Linked DNA regions of Homo sapiens: region 1 is linked to region 2. The links come from fine-mapping of genetic effects on gene expression. Tissue or cell type: whole blood. Region 2 holds a variant in brackets; the other region holds the start of a gene. All regions are shown on one strand. Distances are between the middles of the regions.

What was found.
Region 1: EXOC3 starts here. The variant in region 2 is fine-mapped to the expression of EXOC3 in whole blood (INTERVAL, PIP 0.94).

The regions. Positions count from the first base shown.
Region 1 is chr5:440,770-446,132 of GRCh38, forward strand. It overlaps EXOC3 (exocyst complex component 3), which reads left to right and starts at 2,407. Exons shown (of 13, transcript NM_007277.5): 1 at 2,407-2,521. EXOC3-AS1 (EXOC3 antisense RNA 1) reads right to left here and starts at 2,391. Exons shown (of 1, transcript NR_126522.1): 1 at 1,066-2,391. RefSeq lists enhancers at 209-268, 1,852-1,901, 1,922-2,031, 2,802-2,931, 2,982-3,071 and 1 more and a silencer at 2,112-2,501.
Region 2 is chr5:485,463-490,825 of GRCh38, forward strand. It overlaps SLC9A3 (solute carrier family 9 member A3), which reads right to left. Exons shown (of 17, transcript NM_004174.4): 3 at 2,854-3,014. Among named protein-coding and RNA genes, the nearest start is that of SLC9A3-AS1, 15 kb to the left of the region's middle. The variant A/G (reference allele first, on the strand shown) is at 2,721.

The sequences.
Region 1 (5,363 bases), 45 kb before region 2:
ACCCTGGGTTGGCTTCCGCCGAGGGCTGAGTTTAGGAACAGTCTCCAGGCTGTTGCTGTTTTCCTAGTCCACGCTTTCACTGAGGATGCATCCCTTGCACATCTGTGCTTCACATGGGAGTCGCCGTCCACCTCCCACCTGCTGGGAGCCTTAGCTTCATCATCTGTCCTGCTTCAGTGTAAAACCCAACCCCTGGGCCGCAGAACTCGCACCCTACCCACCCACCTGCCTGCTGTAGGACGGCAAGCATCTCTGCTTCTGATTCACGTCCTCTCCCCTTCCCACATTTGTCCCTGGTCACGTCCTTGCCTGTTCGTGAATCCACTTGTGCAATCGACATGATGCTTGCACTCAGCAGTGCTCCTGGGTGTTCGCAGAACATGGTCTGCCAAAAACAGAAGTCAAGAAACTTTTTTTTTTGAGACAGATTCTCCCTCTGTCACCCAGGCTGGAGTGTAGTGGTGCCATCTCAGTTCACTGCAACCTCCTCCTCCCGGGTTGAAGCCATTCTCCTGCCTCAGCCTCCCAGGGAGCTGAGATTACAGGCATGCACCACCATGCCTGGCTAATTTTTGTGGGGTTTTTTTTGGTAGAGATGGGGTTCCTACCAAAAAGACCATGTTGCCCAGGCTGGTCTCAAACTCCTGGGCTCAAGGGGTCTGCCCATCTCAGCCTCCCAAAGTGCTGGGATTACAGTTAGGAGCCACTGCGCCCAGCCAATAAATACCTTTTTTTTTTTTTTTTTTTTTTTTTTTTTTTTGAGACGGAGCCTCGCTCTGTTGCCCAGGCTGGAGTACAGTGGCGCGATCTTGGCTCACTGCAAGCTCCGCCTCCCGGGTTCACGCCATTCTCCTGCCTCAGCCTCCCGAGTAGCTGGGACTCCAGGGGCCCACCACCACACCTGCCTAGTTTTTTTGTATTTTTTTTAGTAGAGACGGGGTTTCACCATGTTAGCCAGGATGGTCTCGATCTCCTGACCTCATGATCTACCTGCCTCGCCTCCCAAAGTGCTGGGATTACAGGCGTGAGCCACGGCGCCCCGCCAAGAAAGACTTCTAATCAATGTTTTGTTAAGAAGTTACTAGACAGTCCTCCATCCAAATTCACTACCAGACACTGATATAATAGTATGAGTCTTTAGTTCATAATACTCAATGTTACTATATTTTTAAGAGTCCTAAAAGCTTTGGCAATTTTGGCAATTTTTTCTTCATTAGTTTCAAAATTTCTTTACAGTCATAATTTCTAACACAATTTTAACTTTTTTACTTTTTTTCATTGCTCAACTTGTTGCTAGATTTTCAGAAATTACAAGGAAAAACTGAAATAATAGAGCCGGGGTCAGTGTCAACATCAGCAGGGCACGGGGCAGGGCTCCCTGTCGGAGTGGCAGTGGGGGCTCCCGCAAGCTCCATCTCCTTCCTGTGTGCCCCTGCCCCATGCTGCTGCCACTTCCCTGGTCTCTGCTGGCTTCCCTGCCACCTTCCAGACCCTTCCTTTCGTGTGGCTAATTTTCAGGAGGGGCAGGGGCACAACCTAGCAGCTCCAACCTATGAAAGACTTTGTCAGTTGGTGTGTCAAAGCCAGCATCTTTTATCAAACAGACAAACCCTGAACGCTCGTGGTTTAGCACGTGCTTCTTCCTCCAGGCGAAGCCAAGTGCTGGCCATGGGCCTCTCCTCCAGGAAGCGACTCAGGACCGGCCCTCTGCAGCGCGGCCCAGTGACCCACATTCATTCTCCAAGACCTGCGCTGCTGGGCCTCTGAGGGGCCCCGGAAACATCCGGTGGCCACCCATCCCACTGGCATTGTTCCCACGAGGGTGCCAATGACTGCGCTCCTGGAGGGGCTGAGTTCGTCTTTGGGTCCAGGAGGTACCCAAAGCCGCTTGTCTGCTGGTGGCAGGTATGACAGACGTTTGATTCCCAACCTTCTCCGCTTTGGTTTCTTCGTTTACTGAATGCCCGGCGCCCACCTCAGTCCGCGGGAAACGAGGGACGCCCCTGCCACACTGCAGTGCGGACGACGAGGCCAACATAAAGACAGCAGGCATCAGCAGAGGATGGAGACAGCGGCTCTGGGGCTGTCTTCTCTCCGCAGGTTGGGAAGGGAAAGGAGAGAAAATGCACGCAGTCACGCTCGGCGGAGGCGTCCAGGACTGCGCCCGCCCTGGGGAAGGGCGCACGCGGTGGTCGCCAGGGGCAGCGAGAGGGCCTGAGTTGGGGGGGCTGGGACGGACAAGAAGCCCCCCACCTCGGCGGTTTCCCTGTCCTGCTGGGGAGCGGCCATGGGGCAGGTCCCCGAGCTGAAGTCGCTCGGCCGGGAGACGAGTACCCGCCCCGCGGGAGGGCCCGGACCCGTGCTTCCGGCGCCGTTGCCGGAAGCGGAAGTGCCCGCGCGCTGTCCACTTCCGGCCGGGACCCCGGAGGCGGAGGCAGCGAAGGCGGAGGGGGCGGCGGGGGCGGCGGCGGCGGCGGCGGCGGCGGCGGCGGCGGCGGCGGCGGCGGCGTAGCCGTAGAGGGTGAGTCGGTGGCAGGTCCTGACGGCCGGCGGGTCCTTGGGAGGTGGTCGCCGTCTTTCATCCTTGCTCTCCCTGTCTCTGGCTTCCGCGGGGGCGCGTAGGGGGAGGCCGGACCGGGACCTGGAGGGCGGGGAGGCCGTTCCGGACCCCGTGGAGTATCCCGCTCGTGCGAGTGTCCTCGGCGCAGGTGTCCTCCCCGGCACATGTGTCCCCCCCAGGCGTAGGTGTCCCCTTGGCACATGTGTCCCCACAGGCACAAGGTCCTTCCTGGTGCAGGTGTCCCCTTAACAGTGTCTTCCCCCACGCCCCAGGCGCTGGTGTCCTTCCTGGCACAGGTGTCCCCCCTCGGAGCAGGTGTCCCTCCTTGGGGCAGATGTCCCTCCAGGCACAAGTGTCCTTCCTGGCGCAGGTGTCCCCTCGGCGCAGGAGTTCTCCAAGGTGCAAGTGTCCCCTCAAGCACAGGTGTCCCTCCCAGGCACAAGTGTACTTCCTGGTGCAGGTGTCCTCTTGACGGTGTCCCCCCCCAGGCGCAGTTGTCCTTCCTGGCACAGGTGTCCCCCCTCGGACCAGGTGTCCCTCGTCGGAGCAGGTGTCCTTCTGGGCACAAGCGTCCTTCCTGGCCTTTAGGAAGCTTTCAAGGTGCAGGTGTCCTCCAAGGTGCAGGTGTCCTCCAGCGGAGTGTCCCCTCCGTGAGGTGCCTCCCAGCACAGGTGTTCCCCTCGGCGCAGGCGTCCCCCCGGTAAAGGGTCCCTCCTGGCAGAGGTGTCTGCCCGGCAGAGGTGTCTCCCTGGCGCAGGTGTCTCCGTGGGTGCTGATGTTCCCCGCAGTAGGGTGTCCCCCCGCTCGGCGGAGAGGCTCACAGCGGAGCCAGCGCCAGGGGAAGGCAGTCAGAAAGGCCCTGGTAGGGGCTGGACCTGGGTCTCTGTTTATGGTCTCTGAGTTCCTCTTTGGCTTCTGTGACCCAAAATCTTTAGTCTTCAGGCTGGGATGGAAGCCTCTGCGGTGCGTTTTTTAACTCCAGATTTTCCCCTTTTCCACATGAGTAGCTTTATTCTGACTCCAAGGCGAGCCCTGCTTCACAGCTCTCCACTCACATTGCCTTGGCTTCCACCCACAGCGTGACAGACTTCACTCCAGCCTTAAGATGGGCGCAGCCACCTCACCGCGTGCCCCAGCAGAGCGGCTGGGGGTCCACTTCTTGGGTTATTATCCAGCCCTATAATCAAAATCATACAGGCTTTAATGTCAATGGAAATGCTGATGATAATGTCCAAACAAAATAAGAAAACAAAAGTGTGCACCTACAAAGTCATATAAGCAGTGGAATCTTAGCTTTAAAAGAAACTCAAAGGGAAAAAACTGGAAGGAAACAAGCCCTGTTGGAGGGAGTTGCCCCTGAGTGTCGGGATTTAAGGGGAGTTGTCCCTGGGTGGCGGGATTTAAGGGGAGTTGCCCCTGAGTGGTGGGATATAGCGGGGGTTACCCCTGAGTGGTGGGATTTACGGGAAGTTGTCCCTGGATTGTGAGATTTAAGGGAAGTTGCCCCTGGGTAGCAAGATTTAAGAGGAGTTGCCCATAGATGATGGGATTTAAGGGGAGTTGCCTCTGGCATCTTTGTATTTTTGTCCTGTCCAGATTTTCTACGTTGGTATGCCAAATTTCATAATCAGAAAATAAAGAGAAAGGAAAGGTTGCAATGTAGGTCCAGATGAAAAAGGAGAAGAGAGGTGTCTGAAAGCATGTGGGCATGGAGAATGAAAAATTCCAGGAGAAGGTGAATCTTTTTAATATTCATGAAGATGAAAATCAGACAGCTGAAGTCAAGGGGAACAGGTGTATCGGATTCCCTCATTGACTGATGCTCACCAAGCAGCTGTGTTAGCTCCCCGAGGAGGACGATGGTGGAGGGAGCATGGAAGGCAGGCTTGCCTGGCATCTGAGCACCTGTGGTCTGCACGGGGCCTGCATAAAGGAGGGAAGCATGATGTTTTCTAGGACAGTTAAAAAAGGGGGAAATGGGGTTTTGGATACCCAAGACAATAATGACTTTTTCTTTTTTTTTCTTTTTTTTTTTTTTGAGACGGAGTCTCGCTCTGTCGCCCAGGCTGGAGTGCAGTGGCGCGATCTCGGCTGACTGCAAGCTCCGCCTCCGGGGTTCACGCCAGTCTCCTGCCTCAGCCTCCCGAGTAGCTGGGACTACAGGCACCCACCAACATGCCCAGCTAATTTTTTTGTGTGTATTTTTAGTAGATACAGGGTTTCACCATGTTAGCCAGGATGGTCTCGATCTCCTGACCTCGTGATCCACCCGCCTCGGCCTGCCAAAGTGCTGGGATTACAGGCGTGAGCCACCGGGCCTGGCTGACTATTGTCACTTTTATAGGGTGGGAATTGTGGGGCTTGTGCTGGGCCTCCAGCTGTGGTACCTGGTCGGGGGAGTTGTCCACGCTGTATTTGTCTTCACTGAGGGTCCTGGTGCAGCTGCCCACAGGCCTGGCCAAGGTGCTGGGGGAAAGCTCCCGAAATGAGAAACCAGCCCTGTCTTGGGGAGAGATGTGCCTTTGAGGCTGACATCTACATGCTGGGTGGTCTGGGACCCACATCTAGAATCTTCGCAATGTCCATGTCTCTCATGCCTGTGAAACGCCCCTGCTCTCCCCTTAAAGGTATAACTTCTGCATGTTTGTGTTACGAAGGTTTGTTTATCTTATCAAGGAGTTCCTCATCCTAGTTCAGCTTTCTTTGAGGTTTCCTGGATTAATGATCTCAGAGGCTCTGCTTGTAGCTCCACTGTGATCACCTGATAGTTTGGGGGAGGTTTTGTACCTAACATTTCTACCGT
Region 2 (5,363 bases):
AAGCTGGCCTCTTCCTATCCTCTGCAAAACAGGGGCAGCTGCAAAGCTCCCTGCCACTTGAATTCTGAGTCTCATCTACGGAGACAAACCCAGGGTGTCAGTTTGAGTGACTTCCCTGCTGTGCTGGCTCTAGCCCCTGCCGTCTTTGCATGTTTTTAAACCTTAGCCCGGCAAAACCCAGAGATAAAATGCGGGGAAACCTTATCCACGCCCTGGGCTCCACGCCCAGCAAAGTGGTGACGCAGGTGAGACCGGCCGAGGGCCGTCCTGGGTGGGCCGAGGCCCCTGGGGAGAACCTGGCTCTGCACCCAGCTCTGTGTCTCTGGCTCTGGCCAAGGTGGGAGAGGACCCTGGGGCAGGCGTGTAAGTTGGGTTTGCAAATGCAGGCTGGGGTGGGGGGCCCATGAGGGTCCCGGGGTCTCTTGGGGCCTTCTCGGAGCTGGGCTTTTTAATGAAAATCCAGCTGGGAGGGAAGACAACCTCTTGGGAGACTCTTGCTTCTCCAGGGACGGGAGCCGCAGGGCTGCGGGGCACACGGGGCTGTCACTCTATTCCCGATTAAGTCTCACTTCCCAAATTCCCCCGAGAATATCTTGCCGTCTGGTGTGCGACACCCACAGGACTTTCCTCTTTCCAAAACCCCTAAGGGAACATGAGAGGCTGACGGGTTTCAAACCTTTCAAACCACAGGCACTTTCAGAGGGGAGAGGAAGCTGACCCCACCCTTCCCTCCGGCTGCGTCTGCAGGGTCCTCGGGGCTGGGGGAGGATGGGCAGGGGCAGCACGGGGCGGGGGCAGTGTGGGGGCTGGGATGGTGTCGGGGCCGGGCCCAGGGCTGGCCTCACTGACGGTTCCTAGGAGGGCCACTCTGCACGTGCCCCTCGGATGGCCCCATGACTCACTTCCGGGAGGCAGTGGCCCCATTTGATGGGATTGGCTTTGAAACGTCACGATTGTCACTGTGAAGTAGTAACCATGTTCCTTGGGGTTCCTGAATCTTCTCCTGGCCTTACTGAGCGCTGATGTGGCCTTTGGGCCTCTGTGGAGGCACCGTCCCCGCCTCCCGGAACACCATCTCCTCCAGGGACACCCACACACCGTCCGGGCTCTGCCGTTAGCACCAGTTCAGTTTCCCTCCCTTCACCTCTGTCATGGGCCAAATTGTGCCCCCGAAATTCCCATGTTAAAGTCCCCAGGACCTGGGCATGTGAGCGTGAAAAAGGGGAGTATGGCACAGTCAGGTCACCGGGGTGGACCCTGATCCAATAGGACCCGTGTCCCTGTGAGAGGAGGCGACTCGGGCACATTCACGCAGGGACGGCCACGTGAGGACACGGGAAGGCACCGTCTGCAAGTCCAGGACCGGGGTCCCGCAGGAGCCCACCACACTGACACCGTGATCCAGACCGCACTGACACCCACCGCACTGACACCGTGATCCAGACCGCACTGACACCCACCACACTGACACCCACCGCACTGACACCCACCACACTGACACCGTGATCCAGACCGCACTGACACCCACCGCACTGACACCGTGATCCAGACCGCACTGACACCCACCACACTGACACCCACCGCACTGACACCCACCACACTGACACCCACCGCACTGACACCCACCACACTGACACCGTGATCCAGACCGCACTGACACCCACCACACTGACACCCACCGCACTGACACCCACCACACTGACACCGTGATCCAGACCGCACTGACACCCACCACACTGACACCCACCGCACTGACACCCACCACACTGACACCGTGATCCAGACCGCACTGACACCCACCACACTGACACCCACCGCACTGACACCCACCACACTGACACCGTGATCCAGACCGCACTGACACCCACCACACTGACACCCACCGCACTGACACCCACCACACTGACACCGTGATCCAGACCGCACTGACACCCACCACACTGACACCCACCGCACTGACACCCACCACACTGACACCGTGATCCAGACCGCACTGACACCCACCACACTGACACCCACCGCACTGACACCCACCACACTGACACCGTGATCCAGACCGCACTGACACCCACCGCACTGACACCCACCACACTGACACCCACCACACTGACACCCACCGTCGTTCAAGGCACTGCACCTGCGGTACTTTGTCATGGCGGCCCTGGCAGATTACGTGGTTCCTATGGGATTTTGTTGTTTGCTATTCACGTATTTATTTTATTTGAGATGGAGTCTCACTCTGTCACCCAGGCTGGAGTGCGATGGCACGATCTCGGCTCATTGCAACCTCTGCCTCCTGGTTTCAGGTGATTCTCCTGTCTCAGCCTCCCCAGTAGCTGGGATTACAGGCGCGTGCCACCACCCCTGGCTAATTTTTGTATTTTTAGTAGAGACGGGGTTTCACCATGTTGGCCAGGCTGGTCTCGAACTGCTGACCTCAGGTGATCCACCTGCCTCGGCCTCCCAAAGTGCTGGGATTACAGGCGTGAGCCACCGCACCCGGCCACTCATGTATTTTTTAGGAACTCAGGAATGGGTGGCAGTAACTGTGGGTCCAAAGTCACAGACGCTCTGGGGACCAGGAGGGCGGGATTTCAACAGCGCCATCATTAACCCTGAAGCTATGGAGTGGGCGGGCAGGGCCTGGGAACTGTGGAAGATACAAAGAAGCCTCGCGAAAGCTGCCAGTCGTTCTGAGCTGGGAGGAAGGAGGTGGAGGG[A/G]CGGGACGCCCCCGGGAGGGGAGTTTGAGGACAGGGTTTCACGCCCTCCTTTGCTGACTGACCGATGGGGGGTGAGACGGGGCCCAGGCCTCCCACGGCTCGCCCGCTCTGGAGCGGTGGCTCCGTTGCTCACCACGGTGACTGCGTCGTTCAGCAGCGACTCCCCGAAGACGATGATGAACAGGACCTCGTTGACATGGACCTCCTCAAACACGGCCAGGACGGCCACCGGGTCCACAGCCGCCATGAGGCTGCCAAACAGGAGGAAGTCCAGCAGCCCAATCTGCAGGTCGCCTGGAAGACAAGCCGGGCCGCGGGGCAGCTGCAGGGCCTGCCACCCGAGGAGGAGGGCCCTGGGGAGGCGCTCGCCTACGGGTCGGGGTTCGGAGCCCGTCTGGCTGGCGCCGGTGGCGTGGGGAGCTGGGTCAGCTTCCTGCGTCCCTCCCACAGACCCCCAGCCCCCTCCAGGGAAGGCTGCTGTCTTCCGAGGGGGCCACCCCATCTGAGCAAGACAGACAGACAGACTGACCCTGGCCCTGGCCCTCTCCTTCATCTTTGGGTGAACGGAGGCAGGTGGGTGCAGGGGCACCGCATGCTGGGGAGGGATGGGGGCCCATCGCCTGGAGTGGCGTCCCAGCCCAGGAGAAGCAAGTGGGGCTGACCCAGGACGGGCCCGGAGCCGGGACACACAGCACCCAGGGGCGCGGCCAGGGAGGGGCAGGTGGGAGGGCCGTTGGGGGTGTGGGGGCAGATTGTGGGGATGAGCAGGGCTGCGGTGGGAGCAAGGGGGCCCGGAAGACGTGGGTCCATGTGGTCCCTAGCTCCCGGCCGGCTTCCCTCCCCGCATCTGCCTGTGGGCTCTGGTGCCCCTCGCTGGGGAGGTTTTACTGAAATGCAGCCTTATCCTTCACAAGTCTTTGCCATTCAACCCAGGGTTCAGGCCTCGAGGAGGCCACGTGGGGGTGCCAGGCTCCAGGGGACCCTCAGGGAACTGAGTGTGGCCACGTGGCCCCGAGAGTCTGCCCTCTCTCACGGCCGCAGGGCTCAGAGGACACTGGGCCTCCTTGCTGCCTTCCCGGCCGTGAGGGTCCAGGGACCAGGAGACGCCAGGGCCGTGAGGGTGTGGGAGAGACCACCCAGGGAGGGGGAGGCCCCCGACGAGTCCCCCCGCACAGCTGCTGCCTCTCTGCTGGGCTGGAGCGGAGCCCACCACCCCTCTGGGCTGAGGCTCGGGCTGAGGAGGGGTTTGTCCCTGGAGCCGGACGGGCCCCAGGAGACAGCAGAGAGCAGCCTGGCCAGGGGTTTCTGTGCTGGCGCCTGGGAGGGGACAGATCAGGGTCATCTCTGCGGTGACTAAACCCCGAGTTTGCTGTGAGCTCCTAAGCCCCAGCAGCCTCTGGCCAGTGTCACAACACCCCGAGGAAGTGACAGATGCCAGAAGAACCAGCGTTCAGGGAGTTAAAGTTCCATGTTGGAACGGGAACCACACAAGCCTTCTCCTCTTCCAAACTCAGGCCTCAGGACACGAATCCCCTTCAAGGTCATCTTTAAACGCGGCCTCCTGGCACGGCCGCCCCCAGGGCAGTGATGGCCCCCATGGATGTCCTGGGGTCGGCCGCGTTCAGACTCCCCGGCCGGCAGCCTTCCCGTCTGGACAGTTGCCCACGGCCGTGCCAGGAGGGCTCATGCCACCAGACCGCATGTTCCAGGCCTTTCTCCACCACGTGCTTTGCCTGTGCAAGGGCCTCTGATGCCTGAAGCTCTCGCAGGGCCTGTCCCCACACTGCCCGGACAGCCCCCGGGCCAGCACTGCCATGTCGACCCTTTCCCATGGGGCACGTTTGGCCTTGAGACGCTCCACAGGGCTTGGCCTCTGGTCTGCAGAGATCAGTTGCAGCCTCCCAGCTCTCTTGGACTCCCAGGAATGGGATGGACCTGCCGGCCATGGGCATCTCTGTTCCAGAACCTCAGGCAGCACCCAGCTTTGACCAGCTGGGCCCCAAGGCTGAGCGCAGGCCTCCAGCATCCGTGTCACCTGGGGAGCGGCCTGCCCCAGGGGGCACAGCGATACCTGGGACACGTGTTTCTCATGAGGAGCGTTGTTGGAGGACGGTAGAGTCCAGCGTGGCGAGGGGCAGGGGTGGAGTGCAGCGTGGCGAGGGGCAGGGGAGGGCCAGGGGTGACGTCCTGGTGTGGGGAGTCCTCCAGGGCTTCATGGTGCAGGTGCAGCAAGGACGTCCTCCAGGCTCGGCCAGTTGCACCGAGGACATTCTGCTTCGTGCAAGGGAAATCCGGCAGTGTCTCTGGCCAATGCTAGGCGGGGACCATTGTGACGTGGCCACAGAGCCACGGAGTGTGCCCGGCTCTCAAAGGAGCGGCCCTGACGGCCAGACTGATCACAGGCTACTCCATCCCACACTCGACACAGCTGGGAGGAAGCTGGGATCTCATGGGCGAGGGGCCATCTGGCAAGGTAGGTGTGAGCCTCGAGGGGCCGCGGGTCCAGGAGTCTCTGCTACAACCCCTGAGGCTTTCCCTTGGGTGCGGTGGCTAGGGCGGCTGCCCCATCCGAGGTGTGTCCTGACCACCTATGGCATCGCCCACGTGACGGGCCTGCCATCCATGAGCCTGTCTGTGCCCTCG